2 linked regions of the Homo sapiens genome follow. The protein of the gene in region 1 binds, or shares a complex with, the protein of each later gene. Each region holds a gene or a part of one and is shown in the gene's direction. Other genes may lie near its edges. The genes, in order: SLC7A9 and SLC3A1.

What was found.
Region 2: the proteins of SLC7A9 (region 1) and SLC3A1 are in contact, whole or in part, in a cryo-EM structure (PDB 6LID), measured with the Homo sapiens proteins. Residues at the interface, in NP_001119807.1 of Homo sapiens: Cys137, Phe140, Tyr141, Val142, Gly143, Cys144, Pro147, Ile149, Val150, Cys153, Leu154, Ala156, Ala157, Leu160, Phe161, Thr164, Leu168, Thr279, Thr281, Asp295, Arg296, Tyr299, Tyr343, Val346, Arg347, Lys467, Thr470, Met471, His472, Gln474; in NP_000332.2 of Homo sapiens: Pro64, Tyr65, Ala66, Gly67, Met68, Pro69, Lys70, Leu73, Phe74, Phe76, Ser77, Tyr82, Pro85, Arg86, Phe90, Thr93, Val97, Leu100, Ile101, Ala103, Thr104, Ile107, Ile108, Ser111, Cys114, His201, Asp202, Thr373 (codon at 1,662), Glu374 (codon at 1,665), Pro375 (codon at 1,668).

What each region holds. Positions count from the first base shown.
Region 1 is NC_000019.10:32,868,025-32,871,936, reverse strand, and holds the start of SLC7A9 (B(0,+)-type amino acid transporter 1), read left to right. Parts: upstream 1-2,169; 5' UTR 2,170-2,251; exon of another isoform or gene 2,252-2,260; intron 2,261-3,291; 5' UTR 3,292-3,402; coding exon 3,403-3,489; intron 3,490-3,912. UniProt on the Homo sapiens protein: Associates with SLC3A1 to form a functional transporter complex that mediates the electrogenic exchange between cationic amino acids and neutral amino acids, with a stoichiometry of 1:1.
Region 2 is NC_000002.12:44,299,447-44,303,358, forward strand, and holds part of SLC3A1 (amino acid transporter heavy chain SLC3A1), read left to right. Parts: intron 1-524; coding exon 525-644; intron 645-1,556; coding exon 1,557-1,681; intron 1,682-3,912. UniProt on the Homo sapiens protein: Acts as a chaperone that facilitates biogenesis and trafficking of functional transporter heteromers to the plasma membrane.

The sequences.
Region 1 (3,912 bases):
AATGGTAAAAATGACAGTAGGATTTGCGCTTTGGGAGGCCGAGGCAGGTGGATCACTTGAGGTCAGGAGTTCAAGACCAACCTGGCCAACATGGTGAAACCCCATCTCTACTAAAAATACAAAAATTAGCCAGGCATGGTGGTGGATGCCTGTAATCCCAGCTACTCAGGAGGCTGAGACAGGAGAATCACTTGAACCCAGGAGGCAGAGGTTGCAGTGAGCTGAGATCGTGCCACTGCACTCCAGCCTGGGCGACAGAGTGAGGCTCCATCTAAAAAAAAAAAAATTGACAGCAGGGAGGTGAAACTTCAGTCACATGGCAGAAGCACTGGATACACAATGAACCAATGGTCTTCAAGAACTGAGGAAAATTTTGCTTTTTAAATGAAATCCGTATTATTTTCCATGAGGAAGAGCTTATGAGAATTACTTGAATACTTTCTGTGTATTCAAGGGAGGGAGAGGGTGGGACTGCGGTGAAAAACACAACTTTAAGAAACAGGCTTAAGAAATGCTCACCGTGGACCCAAAATGAACTGAAGTGGAGGTTTCTGACTTAACAAAGGACCCTCACATCCCGATGTTCCAGACTCGGCACTTGGAAGAGGCCCAGGAAGACCAGAGGGCTGGTCCCGGACATTCATGGAACATGCAAGTTCAGTGTGTTCCGTGAGGAGGCGCCTGTTGCTCGCCCTGCGTCGCAGGTTCAGACCCTGATCCTGGCAGTGCTGCCTGAGCCCATGTGGGTAGTGGGTGAGGTTGCAGGGCTGTCTGGCCCCAGCGGGGGACCACTGCCCCACCCTGATGTCCTCACGTGGTCTCCTGTCAGCCTGCCAGGAGCACTTTTGACCCAGGGGGTATTCTGTGGTGTTTTGCAAACATGGATGTGCCAGGTACTATGATGAGTGCTGCAACATTAGGAGGAGTGACCCCAGCAAGCCGGTGGGCAGGTTCTGTCTAGGGTGGCAGGACCTGCCACTAGCCTCTCTGCTCAGGGCTCTGGGCATGGCAGGCAGGTAAACAGGTGGGCCCTCCCAAGATGGGAGGTGACGAACTTCTAAATCAGGACCGTGCCTCTGGGACAACAAGGGTCCCTGTGCTCTGCAGACGGCTTTCAGAGAAACCTGTGCCTCTCTCAGGTCTGCTTGCCCCAAACTGCTCCCAAACTGACCCCCAGAGACTGGCCCAGCTCCTTCCATCCCTGACCTTTGCTTCCATCTGATATCTGGGATGCAGTTAAGTTTGGCCCAAGGCAAAGCTACCAGAGTTTTGGCTGAAGGTAACAGCTACGATGCTTCAGATGCAGTGCTTATGCTGTGCCAGGCTGTCTCATAAGGTCTCATAAGGTGCTTCCTTCCCTATCTGAAAGGGCTTCGTGCTGACCCCTGAGGCTGCCGCCTGAGCCTAGGTCCAATCGCAGTGCGGGAGAACCTCTGCTCCCTCCCAGAGAGATCCAGACCCTGGCAGCCCTGGATGCGGACCGGAGCTTCCTGGCCTTGTGTTGCCTGTCCCCCTCCGTTTCCCCGAAGGGGAAGGTTTTGTGTCCCTTGTGATGAGCCAGGACATGGCTACGTGAACAGCACCACAGCCAAACCTGATGGGCATTTGGCCGCAGCTGCAGGGAGGACACGAGGCCCTGCATTGCCTCAGGCCTGCTTGTGATTCCAAGTGGTGAAGCCCCATCACTGGTAAAGAGGAGTGGGACGGGCTCAGCCGCTCTCACCTGCTCAGCCAGAGGCAGGCCCTTGGCTTGGGGGAAATTCCTGGGCGGGGAGGAAACTGACCAACAGCTGAGTTACGCACACACAGCGGTTCCTGTTTGAGCTGCCTGACTTGGGTTTTAAATATAGCCTATTAAGGCAATTAGCGAATTGGTTCCAAAGTTTATCTCCTCTGATTCCCAAAGATAAAAGAAGGCATAATTTATTTTATCTTTAGGTAAAAAGTGTAGACGATTTGGGACCATCTGGTTTTAAAAAAATAATCTGACCTAGACACAAATGAACAAAACAAAAACGGTTTTGGAGAGAAATTGGTGTTCCTGACCCTCCCCTTTTTTGTGTGGCGTATCTAAGCTTCATTGCAAAAAAAAAAAAAAAGGTGTTTAATAATTACCCTTATTGACCTCTGTACCTTCTGGACTTCCTTTGCTCCTGGGCACAAGACATGGCCATTTCTAGGGTTGGACCGTGCAGGCACGGGCGGTCAGCTGGGCCGCAGCTCCTCCGGCTCTGCAGGGTCACGGAGGAAGGTAAGTAAGGTCAGTAGGTGATAGAAAGGCTCATGGCTCTCCTGGCCGGGGCCTGGACAGATAATTTATTTAGAGAGAGGGTACAGGAGTGCATGGTTTTCTCCTAGTTCAGTCTGGAACTGGGTTTCCTCGGCAATGTTTTCTTTCCTTTCATCACTCAATGAAAAAGTACCTGGCCAGGCGTGGTGGCTCACCCCTGAAATCCCAGCCCTTTGGGAGGCCGAGGTGGAAGGACTGCTTGAGGCCAGCCGGGGCAAATAGCAACACTCCCGTCTTTATAAAAAATATTGTAAAAATTTAAAAAGTACAAAGAAAAAGTACCTGTATTGTGGATCTGTGATGTATGGGAGTGCCTTTAATCTTGGGAAGGAATTATAAGACAGACACTCCTTACCTGGACTTGATTCTGATAAATACATTCCACAATATTTTCATTTTTTAATTTTTTATATATATATTTTTTGAAACAGAATCTCGCTCTGTGGCCCAGGCTGGAGTGCAGTGGCATGATCTTGGCTCACTGCAGCCTCTGCCTCCAGGGTTCAAGTGCTTCTCTTGCCTCAGCCTCCCGAGTAGCTGGGATTAACAGGCACCCACCACCACACCCAGCTAATTTTTTTTTTTTTTTTTTTGCATTTTTAGTAGAGACGGGGTTCGCCATGTTAGCCAGGCTGGTCTCAAACTCCTGGGCTCAAGTGATCCACCCACCTCGGCCTCCGAAAGTGCTGGGATTACAGACCTGAGCCACTGTGCCCAGCCCGGGATGTTGTTAAATATTTCTTTTTACTTTTGAAAAAAAATGAAGTTGACCATAGAGGTAGAATGACTTTCAAGGCACAGGCACGTGGGCCAGGAGGCTCCCGGGGCCTGTCTGGGAGAGAGCTAAGCAAGCAGCTGAGCTTTGGAGAGCAGCGGGGAGCTGTGTTCCCCTGCCTGGACAATGTTAATGACTGACTTTGACTCTGGGGCCCAGCGCATGAGCCCTGAGGGACTGGCAGCGGCCCCCACCTGCAGCAATAACCAACACTGTGCTTTTGCAGCCAGCTCCCCTAGTCCAGGCCGAGCTTGCACTTGCGTCTTGTCTGCTGCTGCTGAACCAAGATTTAGCTGTGCGCCCTCCTTGCAGTCTCCTGGAACCAGCAGGAGGAAACATGGGGGATACTGGCCTGAGAAAGCGGAGAGAGGATGAGAAGTCGATCCAGAGCCAAGAGCCTAAGACCACCAGTCTCCAAAAGGAGGTAAGGCGGTCTCTGGTGGGGCAGGCCCTTTGCAGGTTAGGCAAGGGCGTCTGAACGAGGGGCGCAGGCAGTGAAATCCGGGCCGATCCCTAGTGACACGGCAGAAGATGTACTCTTTGATTTGTGAAGTACATCTTTAAAGGGATAATCTCTGGACTTACTTCTCTTTCCCTCTCGCCAGGGAATTCTGCATCTTCTTTTTTTTTTTTTTTTTTTTGAGATGGAGTGTTGCTCTGTCACCCAGGCTAGAGTGCAGTGCTGCCATCTCGGCTCAATGCAACCTTCACCTCCCCGGTTCAAGGGATTCTTCTGACTCAGCCTCCCGAGTAGCTGGGATTACAAGCACCCGCCACCATACCCGGCTAATTTTTGTATTTTTAGTAGAGACAGGGTTTCACCATGTTGGCCAGGCTGGTCTCAGAC
Region 2 (3,912 bases), on another chromosome or scaffold:
TTTTTTTTCTGTGTGTTCCTTCCATATTACTCCTAGCAGGAGATCCTTTAATATCTAAGCACTTCACCTCTCATCTGCCTTCCTAGTAAGGAGTGAAATATTTAACTATTGAACAATGTGTTATTTTCTTTGAGTTTGCAGTGACAGTTAAGGAGTTGGGCATGAGGGAGATGAGAAACTTTCCTAGTTTATTCTGAGTCCTATCTTTTCTTATGGTTTCATTCTTTCATTTTTAGTAGACTCTCTAAACTTTGAAAACATCCTTATAACATCCATTACAAATGTAACTAATTGTAATTCTGAATTCACATATGAAGGAGGTGTGGGAGTCGCTAAATGCAGTTAGAGTGCATTTTAGTAAGACAGTTATGCTAAATAGATAAAAATAGACTGTGAATACTGTGCTTGTTCTGTATGTAGATATCTGTTTTATGATGCCAAGTTGTTAACAGTCAAAACTTTGATTAAACGTTGTGATAATAACGTAGTTAATGTAACCAAGCATTTTGCTTCTTCATCTTTAGGAAATTTTACGGTTCTGGCTCACAAAGGGTGTTGATGGTTTTAGTTTGGATGCTGTTAAATTCCTCCTAGAAGCAAAGCACCTGAGAGATGAGATCCAAGTAAATAAGACCCAAATCCCGGTAAAGTTTTATTTTAAACGTTTTTCTTTTGCCTTTTCTGAAAATGTCATCAGAGTGTTTTCTTTCTCAGCCTGAGATACCAGTTACAAAGATGAGTTTTGTCCTGTGTCTAGCAAGTACCCTGATTTATTTCTTTAGGAAATGTGCAAGAGTTTGAAATGCATATGCACTCGATGTTTTTTTCCACTGGTTCCCTCCAGAGCGAGGGATCCCTTGAGGAGTCCTTCAGTGACAAGGGTTCTGAAGACATGGACAGTGTGGGCTCTACCAAGGGCCACAAAATAGAGGACATTTACTCCTGCAATTTTATCATCTGACATAGGCTCAAGTGAGGAGGCCTTGGCTTGGATGAGATGTAATTTTTTGTTTTGATTCTAGGAGATTATTGTCATCCTAGAAAGACATAGAAATGAGACACTGACATAGAAATCCTACAAAGATACAGAAACTAGGAAAAATTTACTGAAACCCCGAGAAAGTATAACAGTTAGGAGAAAGGATAGTGATGGTAAAGAAACAAATTTAAGTGCATGATGTTAATAGTTTTGTGAGCAGATAAAGTATACATGTAATAATGAGCTCTATAACCACTAAGATCTTTTTTTTTGTTTTTAAAAGGGTCTGAAACATTTTGACAATTACGTGTTGAGAACTTTGTAATCAGTGTTTTGCTTGGTAAAATTTATTTGCTAAAATGGGTGACAGTTTATTAGAGAAATATTGCTTAGTAGATTTATAAAGTTAACAACTTGAGCATCAAATGAAGCATTCTTCTCCATCCACAAAACCATGTTTGAGTGTGCGTCTCGCTTGGCTTGAGCCCTTTGAAGAGGTTGTCTACATTCATATAGAGCGAGCTGTGGGCATGCAATGTATGAAATGAGGGTAACCATGTCGTCCTGGTTTTCAAAGGACACGGTCACACAATACTCGGAGCTGTACCATGACTTCACCACCACGCAGGTGGGAATGCACGACATTGTCCGCAGCTTCCGGCAGACCATGGACCAATACAGCACGGAGCCCGGCAGATACAGGTTGACCACGGCATATGCTCTCATTTCTTCCCAGGCTTAGTGTGTGATCTGCAGTGTATCCCTCACAACCAAGTGTATTTGGAGGTTCAAGTAATAATGTAACAAGCCTGCATAACTCTAATTGATTACAGTTTGGTTGTACCAGGGCCTGCCATATTCCTTTCCTGTTTGCTTATTTTGCTGACTTTCAGTTTCCTCTTTTGTAAAATGATGCAGATCACACTACGTACTTCACAGGAGTTTTGTGAAAATTAGGTTAATGAAAAAGAGATTATATTAGCTAAATGTTAGCCATGAGCTATTATTTTTTCTTTTTCAAAAACCAGTTCCAGGCCGGGCACAGTGGCTCACGCCTGTAAACCCAGCACTGTAGGAGGCCAAGGCAGGCGGATCACGAGGTCAGGAGTTTGAGACCAGCCTGGCCAACATGGTGAAACCCCATCTCTACTAAAAATACAAAAATTAGCTGGGTGTGGTGGTGGGTGCCTGTAATCCCAGCTACTTGGGAGGCTGAGGCAGGAGAATCACTTGAACCCGGGAAGCAGAGGTTGCAGCGAGTCAAGATTGCACCACTGCACTCCAGCCTGGGCGACAGAGCGAGACTCCATCACAAAAAAAAAAAAAAAAAAGAACCAAAAAAACAAAACCAGCTCCACCTGGGTGCGGTAGCTCATGCCTGTAATCCCAGCACTGTGTGAGGTCGAGGCTGGTGGATCACCTGACGGTGTTCGAGACCAGCCTGGGCAACATGGCGAAACCCCTCCTCTACTAGAACTACAAAAATGGGCAAGGTGGCACATGCCTGTAATACCAGCTACTCGGGAGGCTGAGGCAGGAGAATTGCTTGAACCGGGGAGGTGGAGGTTGCAGTGAGCTGAGATCATGCCACTGTGCTCCAGTCTGGGCAACAGAGCAATACTCCATCTCAAGAAAAAAATAAAAATACCAGCTCCTTCTCTGCAGTATTATTTTTATCATTGTTATTGGATCTATAGTTTCCTAGTACAGTATATAAATCCATATGTTTCAGCTAAAGTATCAGGAACACAGCTTTGGAATCAGGTAGGTCTGAAGGAGTCCTGCTCTGTAGCTGTGTGACCTAGGGCCAGTTAATTAACATAAGTCTCAGTTGTCTCATCAATAAAAAAGTGATAGCAATAACCTCTATAAGGCTGTTGTGAGATTAAATTAGATAATGTATATAAAGTAGTGCCTGGATCATAGTAAACACTCAATAAAATTACCCATCATTAAGTTTACATAGATCACTCAACAGAATCAATAGGAAGGAATTAAAGAAATTTCATCTCCTTAAAGTAGGTACTCCGATTACTCTGTCTCCATTTTATAGACAAGGAAACTGAGGCTCTGAGCATGTAAGTAATGTCCACAGGTAGGAGTGGCAGCTATGGGATTTGAACTGAAGCAGTTGGGCTCCAGAGACCATGCACTTATCCATAAATATGCTGCCTCAAATAGCTAAAGCCAGCATTGATCGGAGTCATTTCAGGTGAATGTGTCTTCCCCCAGGGTTTTGCTTTCAGCAATTGAGAGTGCACACCAATAATAAGGCAAGATGTTATAGGGACTCCAATACAAGGGGGAAGTTCTTTTGAAGAAAATACCCCACCTAATTTGCAGACATAAACTTTAGATTCTAAATGGAGTGATGAGAATTGCTAAAGAAAGTCTTCATGGATGTCAACGAGTTTTAGTGTCAGGATGTTACTGAATTTTGATTCTAGGAGATTATTTCTCCTAGGATTCTAGGTTTAGAAAGAAAAGAACAGGCTTGGTGCGGTGGCTCATGCCTGTAATCCCAATAGTTTGGGAGGCCAAGGCAGGCACATCATCAGAGGTCAGGAGTTTGAGACCAGCCTGGCCAACATGGTGAAACCCTGTGTCTACTAAAAACACAAAAAAATTAGCTGGGCGTGGTGGCGGGTGCCTGTAATCCTAGCTACTCGGGAGGCTGAGGCAGGAGAATCACTTGCACCTGGGAGGTGGAGGTTGCAGTAAGCCAAGATCATGCCATTGCACTCCAGCCTGGGCAATAAGAGTAAAACTCTGTCTCAAGAAACAATAACAAAAAAACAACCAATATAGACTGAGATCCAATTTTTTTTTTTTTTTTTAAAGACATTCTCACTTTGTTGCCCAGGCTGGAGTGTGGTGGCATGATCTCATCTCACTGCAACCTTCACCTCCCAAATTCAAGTGATTCTCCTGCC